Regions from separate parts of the Homo sapiens genome. Here all the other regions are reported to be linked to region 3. The links are microRNA targets in miRTarBase. Many come from high-throughput screens and were not tested one by one. Region 3 holds a microRNA gene; each other region holds the end of a gene's coding sequence. Distances are between the middles of the regions.
The links. The annotated mature microRNA hsa-miR-6771-5p reads CUCGGGAGGGCAUGGGCCAGGC and lies in region 3 at 4,909-4,930, shown strand. An mRNA with a match to its seed (bases 2 to 7 or 8) in the 3' UTR can be bound and repressed. Matches are read on the target gene's strand: a 7mer-m8 pairs with bases 2 to 8, a 7mer-A1 pairs with bases 2 to 7 and ends in A, and an 8mer does both.

Region 1 (7,952 bases), 17 Mb from region 3:
GTGGCTTTACTCTGTGCAAAGCCTACAGACACACATCAACAGAGGAAGATGATTTTCACTTGCAACTCAGCCCTGAGCAGATAAATGAAGTGCTTCGAGCTGGCGAGACAACCCACAAGATTCTTGACCTTGAAAGCAGAGTCCCAAATTCAGTGTTGCGGTTTGAGAGCAACCAGCTGGCTGCCAATTCCCCAGTGGAGGACCGGCGAGGTGTAGCCTCCTGCCTGCAAACCAATGGACTGATGTTTGGCATCTTCGATGGACATGGTGGTCATGCATGTGCCCAAGCAGTGAGCGAGAGGCTCTTCTACTATGTGGCAGTGTCCCTGATGTCCCACCAGACCCTGGAGCACATGGAGGGAGCTATGGAAAGCATGAAACCCTTGCTGCCCATCCTGCATTGGCTCAAGCACCCAGGGGACAGTATCTACAAGGATGTCACATCTGTGCATCTTGACCACCTCCGTGTCTATTGGCAGGAACTGCTTGATTTGCACATGGAAATGGGACTAAGCATTGAAGAAGCATTAATGTACTCCTTCCAGAGACTGGATTCTGACATCTCGCTGGAAATCCAGGCCCCCCTGGAAGATGAGGTGACAAGGAACCTGTCACTCCAGGTTGCTTTCTCTGGGGCAACAGCTTGCATGGCCCATGTTGATGGAATTCACTTGCACGTGGCAAATGCTGGTGACTGCCGAGCCATCCTTGGTGTCCAAGAGGACAATGGCATGTGGTCTTGTCTGCCCCTTACACGTGACCACAATGCCTGGAACCAGGCCGAGCTGTCCCGGCTAAAGAGGGAGCACCCTGAGTCAGAGGACAGGACGATCATCATGGAGGACAGGCTACTGGGCGTCCTCATCCCCTGCAGGGCCTTTGGGGATGTTCAGCTGAAGTGGAGTAAAGAGTTGCAGCGCAGCATTCTGGAGAGGGGCTTCAATACCGAGGCCCTCAACATTTACCAGTTCACACCCCCACACTACTACACTCCACCCTACCTGACTGCTGAGCCTGAGGTCACATACCACAGGCTGAGGCCCCAGGATAAGTTCCTTGTGCTGGCCTCAGATGGCCTGTGGGACATGCTGAGCAATGAGGACGTGGTAAGGCTGGTGGTGGGGCACCTGGCTGAGGCAGATTGGCACAAGACAGACCTGGCCCAGAGACCCGCCAACTTGGGGCTCATGCAGAGCCTGCTGCTGCAGAGGAAAGCCAGCGGGCTCCACGAGGCTGACCAAAATGCAGCCACGCGGCTGATCAGACATGCCATCGGGAACAATGAGTATGGGGAGATGGAGGCAGAGCGGCTGGCGGCGATGCTGACATTGCCAGAGGACTTGGCGAGGATGTACAGGGATGATATCACTGTCACTGTGGTGTATTTTAACTCAGAATCAATCGGTGCATATTACAAGGGGGGTTAAGAATCTCCCATCCTATTGTCAAGGTTAACATAAATGCTCTTCTAAAATGTTTCACTTACTCCTAAACTAGCTATCCAAACCTTACTATTAAAAGCGCAGGCAGATTTAATTTGCTAAATAGACTAACAGGAGGAAAAAAACAAACAGCCTAGCTTTAAAAAACAGTGAAATAGCAGTGATTTCATGTCCCTGTATGTTCTGATTAAGTCTTATATGCAGAGAGGACAGAGCATAAAGTCTATAGAATTGGCTTGGGCTTGTGTAGCCCCAGTCATTTGATAAAGATGTTGTTAAACTGTGTCAGCCTGAGCCTTCAAAGGGTAAATTTAATCATGATTCTGAGAATAAAGAACTTCAGGAGCTTCTTAGGTCTTGCCACAAAAATCTGCAAATTTGATAATTCTCCTGAATTCACAATCATGGACTTGTAGACTATGAAGAGATATTTTATTTGTTTGTCTTTTATTTAAATTACTAAGGTCTAGGTTTACAAAGCATACTACAGGACCCTTTTCTATGCAATATCCTAACTTTTTTTTTTGTGATTATGCTTGTGAGAAATTTTGTAATACTACATTCTAGTTCTGTTTTCGTTTATTTTAAAACTGAATCCTTAAACTTGCAAACACGCCTACTGTAAGCATGCTTGGAATGACTTGTTTTGGTTTTCAGCTGATAGGATCTATGCCTCTGGACCAGCTGAACTTACTGGTGCAGCTTTTTGTGCCCTCTACTGAGTCCCATTCCAGAAACTTTGAGCCATGCTAGGAGGTAACTAGTCTATGCCTTAACTCCTGACCTTTCCTGCATTAGTAAAATTTCCTCCTGGGCTGAGCCTTTGGGGGTTGATTCACAGCATTTAAGCTTTCTGATTATACCTCTCAAACATTCTTCTGTCAATTCCACACAATCCTTCTACCTCTGCTATGCTGAACCCCTCATTCACCCTGCACCTGCCAACTGCAAAATATTGTCTGAAAGAATCTTTCACATGTTCCTGCTTCCTATGGCTGCAGGAAAGGAGAAAATGTGATTGCATGTGGTAGTTGTGGTGATAGACGTTTAGACAGGACAGGTTAATTTAGCGGATTGTGGACTTAAGATTCAACCTCTATCTGGAGAGGTGAAAACACAAAGGCTTAAGGACAACAGTTTCTAACCAAGTTTCTCTGAATCCTTTCCTGAGAGGTGGTGGGCAGGAGGGAGGAGTGAGACTTATCAGATGGGACGCTTGCCCCAAGACTGTGGGATAAACCACCATTGCTAGTCCTCAGGAATTAGACCATATTTAGTATAGGAGTTGGGGCAAAAATAAAAGTGTAATTTGTAATGGTTTCTGTGGGCTGTAGACTCTTTGTATTTACTTGGAAATTCAGTTATGTGGATCCATTTTGGAGATGAATTTCATCTCATGAGTTGCTGTGGCATTTAAACAACAGGAAATGTGTCCCTAAATGGAAACAAATATAATCCCACAAAACCAACAATTTTATTTGCCTCTACTACGTCAGGCAGAATTCTTCAATTAAGTTGAACTACATTTGTTGATCCCTTTTCTCATCTTACCCCTTTATGCCACCTACTGAAAAGAAAAACAAATAGCTAGGTTTGGTTTCCTGTTTTTTGTCTATGTCCCAGCTGACATTCAGTCAAATGTTGGGATACTTCTAATTTGGTGGTGTTTCTTTGTACATTTTTCAGTGCAACTGTTTAGTCATGTGTTTTCATCTAAGAAATTATCTTTTGAATATTTAAGCCTTGATCCTTTTATTCTGAAACCATTAATATTCCTTCTTGGCTGGGTGCAGTAGTTTACGCCTGTAATCCCAGCACTGTGGGAGGCCGAGGCGGATGGATCACCTGAGGTCGGGAATTCGAGACCAGCCTGACCAACATGGAGAAACTCCATCTCTACTAAAAATACAAAATTAGCCAGGTGTGGTGGTGCATGCCTGTAATCCCAGCTACTCGGGAGGCTGAGGCAGGAAAATCACTTGAACCCGGGAGGCGGAGGTTGCGGTGAGCCAAGATCGCACCATTGCACTCCAGCCTGGGCAACAAGAGTGAAACTCTGTCTCAAAAAAAAAAAAAAAAAATCCATCTTATCTCTTAGTCCGTCCTTCCTTCCTTCCTTCCTTCCTTCCTTCCTTCCTTCCTTCCTTCCTTCCTTCCTTCCTTCCTTCCTCTCTCTCTCTTTCTTTCTTTCTTTCCTTCTTGACAGGGTCTCCCTGTAGCCAGGCTGGAGTGCAATGGCATGATCTTGGCTCACTGCAACCTCTGCAGCCCAGGCTCAAACGATCCTCCTGCCTCAGCCTCCCGAGTAGCTGGGACTATGCACCACCATGCCTGGCTAATTTTTTTAATTTTTTGTAGAGACAGGGTTTTGCCATGTTGCCCAGGCTGGTCTCAAACTCCTAGACTCAAGCAATCTGCCCACCTCGGCCTCCCAAGGTGCTGGGATGATAGGCATGAGCCACCGCACCCAGCCTATCTCCTAGATCTTGAATCAAAAATAAAATGTAAATCACTTCCATTCTGCTAGCATGAGGGTTTGTTGCTAAAATTGAGGATTCTATCTGACGTTTACTTTTTGTTGTTTTTTGAGACAAGGTCTTGCTTTGTCGCCCATGCTGGAGTGCAGTGGCATCATTATAACTCACTGTCAAACTCCTGGACTCCAATGTTCCCTCCCCTTTTAGCCTCCCAAGTAGCTGGGTCTACAGGCATGAACCATCAGGCCCAGATAATTAAAAAAACTTTTTTTGGTGAAAACATGATCTTGCTATGTTGCTCAGGCTGGTTGTCTGGCATTTTCTTTGTCCTTTATTCTTTATACTAGCTAAACCCTGGAGTATCCTTGAAGCCTTTACTGGCATACAGAGTACCTGAATCTTACTTTGGAGCCTAGCATGGGTCATAAATATATCTGATTCATTAACCTGTGAGACAGCTGAGAGAACACAGACTCCTTACCTGTATCTCCAGGCATATCTGGTTTTTCTCTGCCTAATAGATTTTCCTGCTTTCTAGTTAGTAATATTGAGAAAGAAGAAAGGCTTATTTATCATTTGCTTTTTTTCCACTGTGAATCATCTGTTCTTTCCATGAACATTCTGGGGAGCACCTCCTGATTAAACTCCTGTCTCCCTGACCACTATCCTGCTGTCATTGGACTTCTTGAAGCACATGGGCTACTGCCCCAGGACACTGGGATTTGAGAGGAGTTTAGTGGTAATTGTCAGGTCTTTCAAAGCATTTATTATTCCTTTTATACGGAGATTTCAGTATTGAGACTTAAAATGAACTGAAAAATGAGATTGAACATTTAATATTTTGGATGTAACTTTTGAAGAAAGTATGCTTTGGTGCTTAAAATTGTATATGATTTTAGGTAAGAAACTTTGATAATATTGGCATAATTTAGATTTATTTTCTTTCTTTTTTTTGAGACAGTCTCACTCAGTCGCCCAGGCTGAAGTGCAGTGACACAGTCTCAGCTCACTGCAACGTCTGCCTCCCAGATTGAAGTGACTCTCGTGCCTCTGCCACAGAGTAGCTGGGATTACAGGCATGCACCACCACACACCGCTAATTTTTTGTATTTTTAGTAGAGACAGAGTTTCACCATGTTGGCCAGGCTGCGAACTCCTGAGCTCAAGTGATCCTCCCACCTCAGCTTCCCAAAGTGCTAGCATTACAGGCATGAGCCACCACACCTCACCAGATTTTTAAAAAATATATAACTGCATCTCTCTTGATTCTGGGGCTTGGTAAAAATGGATAGATAAGATAGTATTCTAAATTCAAATTCGTGGCTAGGCACAGTGGCCCACACCTGTAATCCCAGCACTTTGGGATTCCAAGACAGAAGACTCACTTGAGTACAGTATGAGACCAGCCTGGGCAACATAGATCTTGCCTCTACAAAAAAAAAAAAAAATAGCCAGGTGTGGCACATGCCTGTAGTCTCAGCTGCTTGGAAGGCTGAAATGAGAGGATCTCTTGAGCCCAGGAGGTCTAGGCCAGAGTGAGCTGTGATCGTGCCATTGCACTCCAGACTGAGTGACAGAGTGAGACTGTGTCTAAAAAAAAAGTTTGAATTAAAAAAAAAAAAAAAAAAGTCGGCTGTGCACGGTGGCTCATGCCTGTGATCCCAGCACTTTCGGAGGCCAAAGTGGGTGGATTACCTGAGGTCAGGAGTTTGAGACCAGCCTGACCAACATGGTAAAACTCCATCTCTACTAAAAATACAAAAATTAGCCTGGAATAGTGGCGCATGCCTGTAATCCCAGCTACTTGTGAGGCTGAGGCAGGAGAATCCCTTGAACCCAGAAGGCAGAGGTTGCAGTGAGCTGAGATTGTGCCATTGCACTCCAGCCTGGGCAACATGAGCGAAACTCCATCTCAAAAAAACAAAAACAAAAAACAAACTCAAATTAGCATGATAGATCAGGCTACTTAGATTCAGCTTTCTGAGATGTTATTTGTTAACATTAAGGCTAATTTATTATAATGAAAATGTAAACTTTGAGGTATGTTAATATATAAACATCTTTTTCCTTTGGCCTAAAAGGTCTTTAGTATTCAGCACACTGGGTAAAGTTCAGTTTAGACACAATCAAATTGGCATCTTTTAAACATAAGTGAAATATAGAGAGCTTGAACTTGAGTTACTTAAAGAAGATACAGTATAATTAATTATACAGAACAAAACAAAGATGTGTTTAGAGTGACTCTGGCCTGACTCTTGTCCATCAGCCCCTAGTAGCCTATCTTCAGCCTTTGGGAAGTCTTAACTTCCCAGGTTAAACTAGAATATTCTGGAACTGAGCTGTCCAAATTTCATCTTAAAGTGGATCATTTGACTCTGAAACACGATTCTCATGGCAGAAAAAGCCCTGGTGTTTCCTTGGAGCTGGGGATAAAGGCCAGTGAGCCAGCCTGTGATGAGAGCTGCCCCTGGCACTATCTGAGTGGAAAGCTCATTGGGACAGCCATGCAGCTATCAGAGCCGACTGAAGCCCTGTCCCTTACCCCTCAGGCACCTGATGCTTAACTTGCCTCCTGGGAAATAATGATCTAGCATTTACTTGGAACAATGATTAATCATGTTCTTTAATAATTGCTGACATTTGTATTTTAAGCTGTATACCAATGTTCGTATTTGACATTGATTTTCTAACCATTAGAGATATTTAATTAAAACTTGGAAATGAAAGAAACAAAATGAAATTTAGTTTCTTTTGGTTTGAATCCTAATTTTTTTTTTCAGTCCTTAAGGTACTAGATTAGGCCAACCTTTGTTTCACCACCTTTATCTGACCGTGGAAGATTTTAGGCTGTTCAAGAGTCCACCCAAAAGAGAAGTATGCTGCTCTGCAAAGGTTTGGTGGCTGTTGCCCAGGAAATCCTCATTTAGTGTTGACCGTGTGTGTGGAGACCTGAAAGAAGTGAAGGCTTTTGTTGTGAGGGTCTCCACACACTCAGGGCCAAAGCCTGCCAGAATTTCATACTATTTAACTTGAGACATTAAAACCAACTTGGCACATTACCCCCTCGCCCCGGAAGAGAGAAGTGGGCAGAAGTGGAAGGGTGCAGTGGCTCATGCCATCATGCCCAGCCAACCCTCCTTTTCAGCAAGATCAAATTGATGCCCAGAGGTTGAAAAACACCCACGACACAGCGGTAGGGCCAGGATTTGAACCAAGTCCAAAGTCCCAATACTGGGCTTTCAGGAAGGGAGAATTATGTACAGTTTTTTGCACAATTTTGGCCTGGAATGAGTGGGGCTGGGAGGAGAGGTTGGTGGTACTGAAAGGAAGCTAGAAGGCTTTTGGGGGGTTATTGCTGATAATAGCATAGTTTTATGGGCAGAGTGTGGTGGCTCACACCTGTAATCCCAGCACTTTGGGGGGCCAAGGTGGGAGGATTGCCTAAGCCCAGGAGTTCGAGACCAGCCCGGGCAACATAGTGAGAACCGCCCCCCCCATCTCTACAAAAATAAAAATAAAAATTAGCCAGGCAAGGTGGTGTGTTCCTGTAGTCCCAGCTACTTGGGGGACTGAGATGGGAAGGTTGCTTGAGCCCAGGAGGTGGAGTCTTCAGTGAGCCATGATTGTACCACTCCACTTCAGCCTGTGCGGCCAAGCGAGACCTTGTCTCAAAAATAATAATAATAAAATAAGACTGGGTGCTGTGGCTCATGCCTGTAATCCCAGCACTTTGAGAGGCCAAGGTGAGCAGATCACCTGAGGTCAGAAGTTCGAGAGCAGCCAGGATAACATGGTGAAACCCTGTCTCTGCTAAAAATACAAAAATTAAATGGGTGTGGTGGCACACAACTGTAATTCCAGCTACTTGGGAGGCTAAGGCAGAAGAATTGCTTGAACCCACGAGGCAGAGGTTGTAGTGAGCTGAGATGATGCCACTGCACTCCAGCCTGGGCGACAGAGCGAGACTCAGTCTCAAAAATAATAAATAATAATAATAATAATAATAGTAGTAATAATAAAATAGCTCTGTGGA
Region 2 (7,952 bases), not on the chromosome of region 3:
ATTGCCACTGATTTTCTAGATTACGGAACTTAATTTCGGATTCTATGAAGGCGAAGATTACTGCATATGTGATCATACTTGCCTTGCACATACATGACTTCCAAATTGACCTGACAGTGTTACAGAGGGACTTGAAGCTCAGTGAGAAAAGGTGAGCACAACAGAATAAAGAGCTCCCTGCAGGGTGTCTCGATGTCTTATTTCTGGTACCACTGGAAAGCATGAGGCACCACCAAGGGAACTGAGGATGTTTAAATGTGGGAACAACTTGGAACTAAAGGACTATTTTCAATGAATGAATCATTGACTGAATGAGCAACTAGACATTACTGAGTGCCTTCTCTGTGCTAGATAAATTATGTCATTATCTCACTGATTTCCCTAGAAAACAATTGAAGAATCAGGCTCAGAAAAGTACGTAACATTCTCAAGGTTACACAACCAAGAGGGGAGTAGTTGGCCTTGAGACCTGAGCCTTTCCATAACATTCTGTTCTGAATAACCAGGCAGCCTCCATTCTCTGAATTGCTGTCACAGGGGAGAGGGATTCTGTATGGTTCTGAGGAGTGCAGCTCAGGGTGGAAGTTGTAGGACAACCCAATTTGAGCTTAGTAAGAAGAGCTTCCTCACAATCAGATGGAAGGGTTTGCCAGGGGAACCGCTGGTTCCAAGGCCAGGTGGAACTGCTGTTTGGCAGGGATTTTATGTTTGCACTTCTCTGACCCAACTGGGAGAGCTGGTGGTGGAGGTGACCTTTTAGGCTCCATCTAGCCTTGTAGAGGAGATTCAGACAGTAGGGGCAGAGCTGCCCAGGAACCTGAACTGTGAGGTCAGCTGATCTTTGTCAGTGATTTAGGGGCATCTGACATCCAGTGGCCCAGAGGGTGTCTAGGAGAGCCTGTGAACACACCTCTGTCTGGACTCTCTAGCAGTCCGTGGAGGGACTGTTCTGAGGGCTGTCCACAAACTGTGTTCCCACAGGCAGTGAGGCTGAAAAAAAGAGAACAGGTACTTGGAACCTGTCAGATTCTAGCAAGTGCTCAATCCTGGTTGCTAAAAGTTTGGTTATGGGAGGTAAAGAAAGTTGCTCACGGGGCTGTAGATACCCTGGTTTTTCATCACCCATATGGATCTTTTGAAGGGCATTAAAATGAAATTGGCTGTCTGATGGTTCCCAGCGGGTGAGGGGACCTTGCCTGCCTCTCTGCCAGGGGCTTTGTGCCTGCTGGCAACCTTTGGGATTCTGTCTTTATGGCCTGGAGCATGAATGTGCTGCTACCTTTTGCCAAACCTCCCTGAACAGTCATGTTGAGGGGTCTCTCCAGTTCTTCTGTTTATGTCTTCCTTAGGATGATGGAGATAGCCAAAGCCATGAGGCTGAAGATCTCCAAAAGAAGGGTGTCTGTGGCCGCCGGCAGTGAAGAAGATCACAAGCTGGGCACCCTGTCCCTCCCGCTGCCTCCAGCCCAGACCTCAGACCGCCTGGCAAAGCGGAGGAAGATTACCTAGACGCATGCTTTCCAGACAGGGCGTTTTGGCTGCATCACAGCCACTGGCTGGTCCTATTCATTTCCATTTTTATGTATGTTTTGAAAAGAAAAGGTCCGGGGATGGTGGCTCACACCTGAAATCCCAGCACTTTGGGAGGCCGAGGCAGGAAGATCATTGAGCTCAGGAGTTTGAAACCAGTCTGGACAACATAGGGAGACCCCATCTCTACCGGAGGAAAAAAAAAAGAGTCAGGCCTGGTGGTGTGCGCCTGTAATCCCAGCTACTCGGGAGGCTGAGGCAGGACGATTACTTGAGCTTGGGAAATCAAGGTTGCAGTGAGCTATGATTGTGTGGCCACACTCCATCCTGGGTCACAGAGTGAGACCTTGTCTCAAAAAAGTAACATAAGGAAAAAAGAAGCCTTGCTTTAGCACAGGTATGAAGCCAGAAGCCAGCATCTCAACTGTGCTTGTCTTATGCAGAAATATAAAGCGATGGCCAGGTTGGACTTCATCTCTCTCCTTTGGTATTATTGCTGTGATTATAAATGGCAGATGTTTCTCATGTTGGTTCACCTGTGGGGATTTGGGAGGGTGGGTCCTCCCTCCCAAAGTTGACTCACCAGGCTGAGTCAAATCTAATGGATGAAGGTTTCCAAAGAGAAATGTGAAGTGGCGTGCTTAGGTCTGGAAGGGCCAGTGGAGTACGCAGTGAGGAAGGAGGATCTGGCCCAGCACGCCTGGGAAATGACACTTCAGGCTTTATCAGAAGCTAACTGGGTCACCAGTGTGATGGGGGCTGCCACAGGCCAGTAGGATACAGCCTGTTGTAATGGGGTGGAGCCAAGTCAGAGGAAGTGGTGACCCAATTTCTCTGTCTGGTGGAGGCCACATAGAAGGCAGGGGTCAGCTATGAAAGCCACACTTTGAAGAGGATGAATCAGTCAGTGTTCAGTTCAGAAAATCAATTGCTCTAGGTATCTTAAGAAGAATGGATTTTAATGTATGGATAAGGTGCTGTAGAATTGTGACAAGGGCCAGAGGACTGGGAATCGGAAGGTTGCCGTCAGGACTGCTGAATTCAAGAACACACTGCCGGGGTTGCCATCGGGGACTCAGAAGCCACTTCTGCTCCATAACTGCTCCTGGAATTCATGCAGCTGAAGATTCAACACTGGGCTGCTGATTTCAGCTACCCATGCTTTCTTCTTTTTCTTTTTATTTTTTTGAGACAGAGTCTTGCTCTGTAGCCCAGGCTGGAGTGCAGTGGCACGATCTCGCTCACTGCTACCTCCGCCTCCCATGGCCTGGTTCAAGCAATTCTCCTGCCTCAGCCTCCCGAGTAGCTGGGATTACAGGCATGCGCCACCATGCCCAGCTAATTTTTTTGCATTTTTAGTAGAGACAGGGTTTCACTGTGTTGGCCAGGCTGGTCTTGGACTCCTGACCTCATGATCCACCCGCCTTGGCCTCCCAAGGTGCTGGGATTACAGGTGTGAGCCACCGTGCCCAGCCTACCCGTGCTTTCAAAGGTCCTGTATTTCCACCACTTTGTCACCACAGACAGCCAGAAGGTCAAGCAGCTGGCCTCCACCTTGCTTCCTTCTGGTGCGCATATATAGGAGCCTGATTAGCATGTAGAATCCTAGCAGAATGGGAGTCTTTGAAATAGGTTTCAGCTCACCAGCCTCTAGTTACAGGAGGCATTCTAGAAGGACATGAGTGGATTATAACTGCCAACCAATTGTATGTGCCACTGAGGAGATGGAGAAGCTGTGTCCAGAGCGGTGCTATAAGGACAGGAGTGTGACACAGGAAGGCTTAGGTACGTGGCCTGGGCCCAGTCTCACATCTCAGGGTCCTGCTTCAAGTGGGAGCAGTTGAGATCTGTGACACTCAGCACCTGGGAGGCCGGGTCAGTGAAGGGAGGGAGACAGAACTCAGCTCCTCTGAGAGGAGAAGTTTACACAGCACCTGGGGCCCTCCATTTGGGAGTCACAGTGGAAAGGAGTCTTGGCTGAGCTTTGGGGCAGGTGCACCTTATTTTCTTTGCGGTCTGGGATGCCCTCAGAGCTGTGCTCCTCTGCTTTGTCCCCATCTGCCTCTGGCCCTGGGTAGGAGGCACTTGGAGCATACTTTGTCTTCCTTCAGCAGAGGTGTGGGCAGGGAATCTACTTGTCTCTTGTTTTCCTTTAAGCCGTTGTGAAAATCAAGTATGTGACTCTTCCTTGGAAAAAATAATCTCTCAGAAAAGGACTTCTAATACATCCTCAGGGTAGAATGTGTTTCCGTGATTACTTTTTTTTTTTGAGATGGAGTTTCGCTCTTGTTGCCCAGGCTGGAGTGCAATGGCGTGATCTTAGCTCACTGCAACCTCTGCCTCCCGGGTTCAAGTGCTTCTCCTGCCTCAGCCTCCCGATTACAGGCATGCACCACCATGCCCGGCTAATTTTGTATTTTTAGTAGAGACAGCGTTTCTCCATGTTAGGCTGGTCTCAATCTCCTGACCTCAGGTGATCTGCCCGCCTCGGTCTCCCAAAGTGCTGGAATTATAGGCGTGAGCCACCACGCCCAGCCTTTTGTGATTACTTTTAAAATTCAGCTGGGTTTGACACTTGGAGGCTTAATTTCTGGGAATGACTGGACACAGCATGTGGCTGGGACCCTCTGAACAACCTCTGACCTAGTGGAGAAGCAGGTGGTAATGACTGTAGGTATGGATAGGGAAAGACTAGGCGGGCAAATACTTGTCGTGTGTCAACAGGTGTATTTTGCTAAATGTCGGGGACACATTCCAAGAGGCTAAAAAGCAAATTTCTGTACATTAGGAGATTTGTGAGTCCTTAGGAAAGGCTCAGAAGAGGGCTCCACCTAGCACAATACCTGACATAGAAAGTGGTCAGTGTCTGCAGAATGAGTCGGCATGAACCGTACTTTCCTTGGCAGGGTTATTAGGTGGTAAATACCTGCAGAATAATGGGATTGTACTAGGGTTTCTTCTGGCTTTAGAAACCCATTTGTTTACTAATAGATTCCCAGAGGATACCTTGATCTCACCAAGCTATTTGCCAGAATGTCTCCTGATGGCCTCATTGAAGAAAGGGGGACTATGAGCCAGATGCTGGTGCCCTGAAGATTTGTAGTTTGTGGGATAGTCTTAACTTGGCAGGGTTTGATTAACAGAATGAAGTCTGTTCCTTAGAGGGAAGTCTTTGCTTGCTGCCCTGACCTGCTGGACACTGTTAATTGGGATGAGGTCAAAGAAGGCATAGTTACCACATTTGCAGGAGACCCTAACCTGGAAATAGTAAATTACATAACATTCTTTCAAGTGTCTCCTCTTTTAAAAAAGTATTTTGATATAGTTTCACACAGAGAAAACTTGCAAGAACTCTTGTATATCCTTTACCCAGATTCTCCAACTGTCAATACTTTGTCCCATTTACTATTTGCTTTAGACATTTTGAGATTTGTTTTTGAACCATTTGAGGAAAACATCCTACCCTTCTACCCATAAGTACTTTTTCAGTGTGTACATCTTAAGAATCAGGACTTTCTCTTCCATAACCACAGTCCATCAGATGCAGGAAATAAGACAATAATGCAATACTATGACTTAGCCCACAGTTCATGTTCAAATCTTACCGATCACCATGCCTCTTTGGTCTTGCTTAATCTGAAACAGTTCAGATTTTTATTGGACTTTCTCGGCTTTGACATTTTGGAGAGTGAGGTGTTATTCTTTAGGGTGTCTGTCAGTTTACATTTGGGGCTTTCCCGTGATCGGATTCAGGATTTACATTTTTGGCAGGAACAGCACAGAAATGATGCTGTGACCCACATGCATCACATTAGGGGCCCATGATGTGGGACTGCGCTTTCCTTGCTGCTGTTAACTTTTATCAGTTAAGGTTGTGTTTTCCGCATTGTGAAGATACTGTTTTTCCTTTTAATAAGTAATTTCTGGAGGGATACTTTGAAACTAAGTATCCTGTTCCTCATCAAACTTTCACCTACTAGTTTCAGCCTCAATTGATGATTCTTGCTGAATCAATTACCAAGATGGTTGCAAAATGGTGATTTTGCAACATTATCGTTTCTTCTAATTATTGGCATGCTCTTATAAGGCAGTTTGTTTTCTCGACCTTAGAAGTTTTGTGTTCATTTAGTTATTGGCATAGACTCAAGAGTCTTGTGTTCTATGTGGAGTCTGTTACTGTGATTCCTTGTGATGTCCAGATTGTATGTATTTGGCCAATCTTGAGTTCCTTCAGGAAACCTCCTGGATCCCATCATTTTAAGGGTGCTTCCTTACTTTCTAGCATGAGATATTCCAGGCCTACCTTGTACTTTCCCTGCTGCAGCCCTGGAGTCAGTCTTTTGTTGTGGTTTTGCTTTTTAGAGACAGGGTCTTGCTCTGTCGCTCAGGCTGGAGAGCGGTGGTGCAGTCAGCTCACTCCACTCCTGGGCTCAAGCCATCCTCCTGCCTCAGCCTCCTGAGTAGCTAGGACTATAGGCATGCACCACCACGCCCAGCTTTGAATCCGTCTTTTATCCAAGGAGCTCTGGCCTTTTAGCGGAGAATAGCGGATGACATGAATGATGGGCCTGAAGCAGGAAGTGAAATGCAATCCTGACCACCAGACAGATGGGATCTTCAGCTGCACTCAGGCAAGAACTAGGCTCGGGGTAGAGGTGACAGCTCTGTGATGGGGAGCTCAGGCTGCACCAGGAGGCCATGCTAGGTTTGACTTCATTTAAAAAGCACACTACACAGCTGACGGGCTCAGGAGCTCCATGAAGGGCACCCTGCAGAGGTCTGGAGGGTAGTGAGAAGGTACCAATGGGGCGAGCATGCCTGTGTCGGGAGGCTGATCCGGGTAGGAATAAGCCCAGCATGCCCCACATGAGCCCACCATGAGGAAGCATTTGGAGAGAAAGCTTGCTCTGTGTTGTCAGAAGGGAGATTGAAGAAGGTGGGCCCAGGGGTGCTGTTGACAGTATAGGCTCATGTGCTGTTCCAAGGCTCATCTCTGGCTCTTGCCTGGTCTGGCCATACCATGTCCACATCCGCTGTACTTAGGACTTCCTCTGGGCACCAGGGCAGTGGCCTCACCAAGACCTGGAGGCCTAGATGATGAAATCATACTGGTGTTTGCTGTGCTTGTACATTCCCATCAGCAGACATCCGTGTTTGGGCCTGACTGGCCAACAGGGAAGTCCAGGGAGGACACAGTATAAGCTGCTTGGGTAGAGGTCAGCTGGAACCTCTTGTGAACTCTGCACCAGAGTGAAGCCTTCACCCATGGCAGTATTCCTGTGGGTGGGAGGGAAGCTACTGCAGACTGAAAGCAAATGATTCCAAGGAAACACAGTACTTTAGAGAATTCTCTTTAGATCCGTGAGTGCTGCCCATGGAGCTGGGCCATTCCTCCTGAGATACAGGACAGGACGCCTCAACTCTGCTTCTTTGGGCTCTCCCAGACCTACCCAGGCCACTGGAGTGAGTCTAGAGAAATGACCAGGGTGGTGAAGAGACACCCTGCAAACTGGCACATACGAGAGGAACCCAGGAGGGCAGCAGACCCCAGGGGGATGAGGGTGCTGCCTGCAAATCTCTGAAGAGTTGTCACAGAACAGAGTGAAGAGATGTCCTTTGGGGGCCCCAGGAGGTAGAGATTCTGGGAATGAGGTTGGGTTTGTTTCCTCATTTGTCTGCCTGTCTGTCCGCCATCCATCCAACACTTAGTGAGCTTTGCTCTGTGCTGGGCATAGAGAATCAACAGTGAACAAGATGGGCAAAGTCCCTGCCCTCAACCAACAGACTGAAAAGAGAGGATTCAGTGCCATCTGCAGGTGGCATGTGGCTGAGTGGGCACAGGAGCATGGAGAAGGCGCAGTTAACTGTTATTTGTAGAGACAGGGGAAGGTGTTCCATAGAAGTAGTGACTAAGGAGCTTCTGAAGGAGGGGTAGAATTTAGCGAGGGAGAGAGACTTTGGCTCAATTAAGTAAAAAGTTAGATGGGCTCAGTTTTCTTGGGCAAGTCTGGCCTGTTGTGCAAAGCACCCGCACTCCCTGACTCTTCCCCAAACACAAGAGCTAAGGTGGGTGTTCTGTTCCTCCCACTTCTGCCTCCAAATGACCTGGAGGGAATTTGTGTCCCAGCTGTTCCCTTCCCTGCCACCTTTGCTCCAGGTAATAGCCCTCCTCACACCTCTCCACATCTGATAGGGAACTTTCCCCTGCCGGATCTCAGGAGCATCAGCACTCCCAGCCTCCAAAATGGGGACAATGAGCTCACCAAGTCAATGTTTAATACATTATTGACAGAACTTACGATGATTTTAGGTGGCTCAGGGATGTAGTAAAGTACTTGTGTTCTGCTGGTTAGGCTAAGCTGAAGTGACAAATGGCCCTCAAATGTCTGGTTTCAACAAAAGTTCATTTGCTTTTGTTGAAT
Region 3 (7,952 bases):
AGTGGCTACTATCTTGGACAGTGCAGTCCTAGAAGACACAGGGGACTAGCTTTACGACAACAGGACATAAAAGTTAGGTTAGGGTTAAGATGGATAAATCAGACTTGGTGCTGTGAGGCCTGGGCCCCGCTCTCCCTGATGCTAGCCCTCCCCTGACTTGGACCATTAGGTCAAGTTCCTGTCTGCTTCGTCTCCGCAGAGCTGAGGAACTGCGTGTGGAGTCAGCCCAGTCTGGATGCACAGGAGGATGCTGGCGGCACAGTGAGTGAGGCCTGGTGCCAGAGCTGTGCGGACCCCTTGTTGGCCATGGAGCAGCAGGCCCAGAGGCCCTCTCCCCAGCCCTGCTTGCCTGCCTCGGAGAGGACAGAGGCCTAGGCCCACGGGGGAGGGTGTTGGCAGACAGATGCCCTCCAGGCCCTGGGGCCTCCTTAACGGCCCCTTAACGACACGCGTGCCAAGGGTGGAGGATGCCAGCCAAGGGGCGCTACTTCCTCAACGAGGGCGAGGAGGGCCCTGACCAAGATGCGCTCTACGAGAAGTACCAGCTCACCAGCCAGCATGGGCCGCTGCTGCTCACGCTCCTGCTGGTGGCCGCCACTGCCTGCGTGGCCCTCATCATCATTGCCTTCAGCCAGGGGGTGAGTGAGGGCAGCCCCTGGGCTTCACGTCTCGGCCCCAACCTTGGCCAAGCTGCTATCTTCTCTTAGCCTCTTCTGTAAAATGCTTATCTTCTGTAAAATGCTATGCTTTTTTGTTTGTTTTGTTTTGTTTTTGGGTTTTTTTGAGACAGAGTCTCACTCTGTCACCCAGGCTGGAGTACAGTGGCATGATCTCGGCTCACTGCAACCTCCATCTCCTGGGCTCAAGCAATTCTCCTGCCTCAGCCTTCCGAGTAGCTAGGATGACAGGTGCATGCCACCATGCCCAGCTAATTTTTGTATTTTTAGTAGAGATGGGCTTTCACCATGTTGGCCAGGCTGGTCTCGAACTCCCAACCTCAGGTGATCCACCTGCTTCGGCCCCCCAAAGTGCTGGGATTATAGACGTGAGCCACCATGCCCGGCCAATGCTCTGTCTTTTACAGCACATTTAGACTGGTAGAAGACAAGTTTCTAATTTAAAAAAATTTTTTTTGAGACTGGGCCTTGTTTTGTTGCCCAGGTTGGCCTTGAACTCCTGGGTTCAAGTAATCATCCTGGCTTATCCTCCTGAGTAGCTGGGAGTACAAGCATGCACGACCATGCCCAGCCTCTCTAACTTTAATTCAGTTTTGAAGTCTGGAGTGGTTTCAGACATTACATTAACTTGTCCAGATAAACTACTCTCATTTTTCTCCATGATGAAATTCGATTCTACTGAAGACCTGGGTCAGGGATGGCCTGTGTATCACTGCCCTCACTTCCTGTACCCATGCAGACATCATTAATCAATCCCTACATTCCACACTGAGCCTGTCTACATTCTCAGAATCCTCCTTTTGTTTTTTTTTTGTTTGTTTGTTTTTGTAGAGACATGGCCTCGCTATGTTGCCCAGGCTGGTCTTGAACTCCTGGCCTCAAGTAATCCTCCTGCCTTGGCCTCCCAAAGTGTTGGGATTACAGGTGTGAACCACTGTGCCCGGCCTCAGAATCCTTTTTAACACAGCTCTCCAGGCTGGCACCACCTATGTCATTTCCGGCCCAGGCACTTGCCTTGGTACAGCCACTAGCTGTGTTTAGCTATTGAGCATTTAAAAAGTGGGTAATGTGACTGAGGAACTGCATTTTTCAAAAAAAAGAGTTTTGCTCTTATTGCCCAGGCTGGAGTGCAATGGCACCAACTTGGCTCGCTGCAGCCTCCACCTCCTAGGTTCAAGTGATTCTCCTGCCTCAGCCTCCCGAGTAGCTGGGATTACAGGCCCATGCCACCACGCCTGGCTAATTTTTGTATTTTTAGTAAAGACAGGGTTTCACCATGTTGGCCAGGCTGGTCTCAAATTCCTGACCTCAGCTGATCCACCTGCCTCGGCCTCCCAAAGTGCTGGGATTATAGGCGTGAGCCACCATGCCCAGCCCATTTTCTTTTTAGTGAATGTAAATTTGATTAGCTGAGTTCTAGAAGAACACTCAGAAACTCCAGGGTGTTTATGTGAGTGAAGTGGCCAGGACCTAGCAGCTGCCAGTGCAGCCTGGATCCATGTGGCTACCAACCACAGGATGCTTGCTACTGTGTGCCAGCCCCCAGATCAGGCCTCTGCCCCCACGGACCTCCCGGATGCTGTGCCCGTCCTGTCCCACCTCTGTGCCATTGCCTCAGCTCCTCCCCTGTGGGATGACTTTTCCTGGTATCCCTCACCAGCCTCTGCTCACTCACTGAGGGCCAGGCGCAGTGTCCTCTTTGGGCGGCTTTACAAGGCTCTGCCTGTGAATGAGTCCTGCCCTGTGCTTGTGGTATCACCTGCGGCTGTGCACAGAGCACCGTGGGAACCCAGAGAGGAGGCAGAGGCAGATGGAGAGTGATGGCATCATGGGCGGGGCTGTGGGTGATGCTCTGGTTCCCGAGATGATGGGAAGGGGGTGGTTGAGGCAGCCTTGGCAGAGGTGACAAAGGCCAGAAGGTGAGTGGGAACCAGGTGTGGGAGGGTGCATCCACACCCTTCACGTGGAGGAAGCTGTAAGTGAGGCAGCCGGCCCGGCAGGCTTTCTGGAGGAGGTGGCTCTGCACTGGGGAAAGCCGAGGCATTCCTGTCTGTTTGCTCCACCCAGGACCCCTCCAGACACCAGGCCATTCTGGGCATGGCGTTCCTGGTGCTGGCGGTGTTTGCGGCCCTCTCTGTGCTGATGTACGTCGAGTGTCTCCTGCGGCGCTGGCTCAGGGCCTTGGCGCTGCTCACCTGGGCCTGCTTGGTGGCGCTGGGCTATGTGCTGGTGTTCGACGCATGGACAAAGGCGGCCTGTGCGTGGGAGCAGGTAACAGGAACTCTGGACTCCCTGCCAGCTGCGCCTTCAGCAGCTCCCATCCCCGTGGTTGGTGGGCATGCCACAGGCCCTTCGTGCCCCACGCTTGGCTGTGTGTCTAGGATGGCCCCAGGCTGGTTTTGTCCCTGTGAGTTCTCTGCATTGACAGGGCTGAGGTGGGGAGAGCATCCACTCGGACGCTGGGCTGCAGCACTTTTGGGTGGCTCCAGTTTGGTTGGAGATGACAGAACTTCAGCTCAAAGAGGCAAAAAGGCACAAACTGGTTCCTGTGTCAGGAAAGGCCAAGGGGTCAGTGCTGGGCTCCAGTGGGTAACTGGAACTGGGGCCTCTGGACAGCTTCGGCCCCGGGCACGCTGTCCCCAGGTGGGGGCAGAGAAGTTCACAGCGGCTCCAGGCTGCCCACCCCAGTTGAGAGAGAGGGCCCTTTCTCAACCAGCTCGACCTGCAGGCTTGAGCCACACTGGCCTGGCTGTGGTCATGGGCCCAGTCCCAGAGAGGCTGTCACCAAGCGGTAGCACACTCTGACCAGTGGGCCTGGGTCCTATGACAGCTCCTGTGGCTGGGGCAGGGTGGGGTGAGGCCCAAGGAAACCATGTGGACTGAAGGGGAGGGAGAGGGCAGCACTCCCAGAGGGGTGGACGCAGGACCAGCCGGTGGGGATGGTGGGGCAGCTCTGGGGGTGGAGGGAGGGCGGGTGGGGCCGCATTGCTGGAGGCAGCTGGTGAGAGGGTGCCTCAGCCTCCCGGTAATCATTTCTGCTGAGCGAGAACCACGTGGCAGGGGCACCAGGTGGGGGCTCCCTGGATCACGCGGGGCATGGAGCCTCCCACCTAGGGTGGCCACAGGCAGTGGATCAGCACAGGAAACCATGAACCTTGTGGCCGGGCCCACCCTAGAAACACATTATGGCTTTTCTTGTTCCCTTGTATGTCTGCCCACGCAGGGGGTGGCGAGGGAGCCAACCTAAGGATACGCACTGGGTGGGCTGCTGTGGTGCAGGGTTCCGGGGGCTGTACGGCCTGGGGCAGCATCTTGGGGCACCGGGCTCACCAGGCTGCATCCACAGGTGCCCTTCTTCCTGTTCATTGTCTTCGTGGTGTACACACTACTGCCCTTCAGCATGCGGGGCGCTGTCGCCGTTGGGGCCGTCTCCACTGCCTCCCACCTCCTGGTGCTCGGTTCTTTGATGGGAGGCTTCACGACACCCAGTGTCCGGGTGGGGCTGCAGGTGAGGGATGGGCTAAGGCCTCTGGGGGAGGTTTTGTGGTCTGGGTCTAAGGGCAGATGGGGGGGCCCCCTCTGGGTGAATCAGACCCGAAGGCCCCGGAGCCGTGTTTGCAGACAGCCCGCTCCAAGGCCGGGCCCTCTCCACGTCTGCTCGGAAGCTGGGCTCCAGGCGTGGCCCTGCCCTCTGGCCTTTGCTTTGCTGGCCTAGGGCTCCCCTGTGGCTCAGCCCTCAGGGTCGTGACCTCAGGCCTTGCCTCCCGGTTCAGGGACACTGTCGTGGGGTGAGTCCCATTGCCGAAGTTTCCCCTCGAAGGCCCTGTCCTGGCGGGGCTTGGGGGAGTACCCCAGGGCACTGCCTTGTGTCTTTGTGTTGAATGAGTGAATCTTCTGTTCATAATTATTGGGTGTTTAGAGAAGTGTTTTCCCTCTGACCAGGCCTGGTGTCCTCTCCAGGCAGAGGCTGGCCCTCCACACAGCCAGCTGGGCGCTGTGCCCTCTGGGACTGCCCTTAGCACGCATGCCCCTCGGGCCCTGGGCTCTGTGAGGTGGTCTCTTCTGCCTCCCTGGGTGTCCTGGTCTTGCAGTCCTAGTGACTCACTAGGAGACTAGCTCCTGTCTGGGCCTCAGTTTCCCTGTCTGCCCCAGGAAGAGTGCCATTCTCAGTGGGTTGAAGGTCAGGGAATGGGAAGAGGTGCCATCACTAGTCCGCCTAGGGGTCTGGTGCCTCGGGAGGGCATGGGCCAGGCCACATAATGAGCCAAACCCCTGTCTACCCGCAGCTGCTGGCCAACGCAGTCATCTTCCTGTGTGGGAACCTGACAGGCGCCTTCCACAAGCACCAAATGCAGGATGCATCCCGGGACCTCTTCACCTACACTGTGAAGTGCATCCAGATCCGCCGGAAGCTGCGCATCGAGAAGCGCCAGCAGGTGGGACCCGGCCCCCACTCCTCACCCTGTACACCCCTGTCCTCTTCCTCTTTCTGTTGGACATGAGACACTCATGCTGCCATGTGCATGAGGTGCATGGCCAGACACCCATGCAGGTCTCACCTCGGTGAGTCCTGGGCTCCAGCAGGGTAACCATAGCCTGCTGACCCTTGACTCTGCCTTCCTCTGTGTGGTTTCAGTCCTGGGCACGCAGTCCCCAGGTGGCGGCAGAGAAGGCCGTAGTGGCTCCAGGCTGCTCACCCATCAGCTTAGCCTCCCCAGCTGAAAGAGCCCTTTCTCAGTCACCCTGAGTCCCGGGGGCTGCTGGGTACATGGGAGGTAGATGCTCAGTTGGGTTGGTGGAGGACAAGAGCAGAGATGGGGACATTGTGGGCAGGGCAGGCAGGCAGGGAGGATGGGGGCCAAGGAGGCCAGGTCTGGGACCTGATGCTACCCTGCCTGTCCCCCGCTGGTCCCTCCGCCGGTCGCTTTGCTGGTCCCTCTGCTGGTCTGCCCACCCACACCCAGGAGAACCTGCTGCTGTCAGTGCTTCCGGCCCACATCTCCATGGGCATGAAGCTGGCCATCATCGAACGGCTCAAGGAGCATGGTGACCGTCGCTGCATGCCTGACAACAACTTCCACAGCCTCTACGTCAAGAGGCACCAGAATGTCAGGTGGGCGGTGAGACGTGTGATTAGCATATCCCGGGGACTGGGCCCACCGTTCCACCGGCCCCCAGGCGGCCTCCCCGCCCTATCTGGAGGCTCAGACCCCTGCCCATATAGGGATTGGGAGAGGGCCCCATGGTTCCAGGTCAATCTGGGGCCCTCCCTGGGTCTCAGAACCCCCACTTGTGGGCAGGATCAGATCAGGGCTCTTAAATTAGAGAATTTAGATTGGTATTGAAAGATCTAGCACACCCCCAAAACTGTAAAACTGTGTGAGCAAACATAGCTTTTGTGAAGGAAGGGGTCCTTTCAGATGGTTCTCAAGGGAGCACAGGACCCCCAGAATGAGGTAAAGCCCCCCGGCCTTGGTGCCCAAGAGTGCCCCGGTTCTGACACCTGTCTTTGGCTGATTTGCAGGGAACCACAAAATTTTACTTGAATGCACTGACCTGAGTTTGTCAAGTGTCGATGTGGGTGCTGGGTGCCGTTGAGTGTAGATGTGGGTCCCAGGAGACCCCCTGGGTCCTCTGCCTGCAGCGCCAGCATTACATCCAAGGCTGGCCCGCTGCCTTTTCTCTGGGCTGTGGATGGTCCATGAGCTTAAGGACTTTGGAGCAGGGAGAACTGGTGCAGATGCCAGCTCTTGGCTTCCCAGCAAGTCTCAATGTCCTGGAGCCTCAGTTTGTGCATCTGTAGAACGGGAGTTCGGCAAGGGCTGTGTGAGGACTCGATGCCTGTAAAGTGCTGGGTGTGGAGGTTGGCTTGAGGGAGCATGGAGCTGCCTCTCACCAGGGAGTTCTGAAGTCTGTGCTGTGGTGAACATTGGATGGGAAAGGGGAAGGCTCCGGGCTGCCTGCAGGAGTGCCCTTCGGCTGTCTGCAGTGATAGGGCCTGGGGTGGGGCCGAGGGCTCCTGTAGGCTCTGAATTTTGCTCCCTTCTGCTTTAACGTGAAGCCCCTGGAACTTTAATCTGTCTCTATGGCTGGGCGCGACTCTCCCATCCCTATGGAGGCTGAGGAAGGACGGGGGTGAATGGGCTCAGGCCTGGCAGGCTCCTGGGGCTCCAGACAGTCCTGCGTGCTCCTGCTGCTGCTGTCTAGGAGCCTGGCTCTGACACTCCCTCCCACCCTGCCCCATCCCCAGCATCCTCTATGCGGACATCGTGGGCTTCACGCAGCTGGCCAGCGACTGTTCTCCCAAGGAGCTGGTGGTGGTGCTGAATGAGCTCTTTGGCAAGTTCGACCAGATCGCCAAGGTGAGCCCGCTGGCCTACAATGGGCAAAGCCAGGCCCCTCCCCTGCCTATTACACCCCAGGGGTGTCCTGTGTTCAGTGCCCTGCTGGAATTGGGATGGGGAGGCGTGGCTGAATTTTAGCATCCAGCCAGCAAACACAAGCGCCCCATGGTAAAGGTGGGGGTGAGTGGTGGCCACGGCAGCCAGGATCCTGTGCCCCCAGAGTGACAGGCCAGTGGGGAGACTGACAGTGCACACTGGGCGATATACTGGGGCTCTGGAGCTCAGATGGGGGCTCAGGAGGAGGAGATGGCTCCATCCTCACTGGCAAGGCTAGCAGCCTCCACTCACCTGGTAGCTCAGGAGGACTGTGGAATGCCCAGCCTCACCCAGAAGCTGCTTTTCACAGGATCTGAGGTGAATCATGTGCACATTAAACTTTTACGTTTTGTTTGTTTGTTTTTGTGAGATGGAGTCTCATTCTGTCATGAAGGCTGGAGTGCAGTGGTGCCATCACTGCTCACTGCAGCCTCGACCTGCCAGGCTCAAGTGATTCTCATGCCTCAGCCTCCTGAGTAGCTGGGACTACAGGCATGCACCACCACGCCTGGCTAATTTTTTTTTTTTTTTTTTTTTTTTTTTTTTGTAGCAATGGGGTTTCGCCATGTAGGCCAGGCTGGTCTCGAACTCCTGACCTCAAGTGATCATCCCCTCTTGGCCTCCCAAGTGCTGGGATTACAGCCGTGGGCCACCACTCCTGGCCCACCTTAAAGTCTGAGATACTTGAAAAAATATCTGAGGAGGAAAGGGAACAGTGTTCTTAGCAGGGGGAACAGCATAGACAAAGCCTGGAGTAGAAAGAAAGCCCCGTGTGTCCATGGGGTGAACGTGCTCAGTGTGCGTGTGAGGTGTGAGGGGGACAAGGGCACAAGGT

Region 1: miRTarBase lists PDP2 as a target of hsa-miR-6771-5p. Seed matches in the 3' UTR shown: 7mer-m8 at 3,741-3,747.
Region 2: miRTarBase lists POLR1E as a target of hsa-miR-6771-5p. The part of its 3' UTR that is shown has no 7-base or 8-base seed match.

Annotation. Positions count from the first base shown.
Region 1 is chr16:66,884,448-66,892,399 of GRCh38, forward strand. PDP2 (pyruvate dehydrogenase phosphatase catalytic subunit 2) reads left to right here. Exons shown (of 2, transcript NM_020786.4): 2 at 1-6,654. The coding sequence ends at 1,427. It overlaps LOC124903700 (a long non-coding RNA gene), which reads left to right and starts at 7,911. Exons shown (of 2, transcript XR_007065089.1): 1 at 7,911-7,952.
Region 2 is chr9:37,501,694-37,509,645 of GRCh38, forward strand. It overlaps POLR1E (RNA polymerase I subunit E), which reads left to right. Exons shown (of 12, transcript NM_022490.4): 11 at 20-151; 12 at 1,350-2,004. The coding sequence ends at 1,509. Among named protein-coding and RNA genes, the nearest start is that of POLR1E, 20 kb to the left of the region's middle.
Region 3 is chr16:50,287,713-50,295,664 of GRCh38, forward strand. MIR6771 (microRNA 6771) reads left to right here and starts at 4,904; the gene lies at 4,904-4,963. It overlaps ADCY7 (adenylate cyclase 7), which reads left to right. Exons shown (of 26, transcript NM_001114.5): 2 at 200-638; 3 at 2,745-2,948; 4 at 4,024-4,185; 5 at 4,964-5,113; 6 at 5,642-5,790; 7 at 6,928-7,039. The coding sequence starts at 468.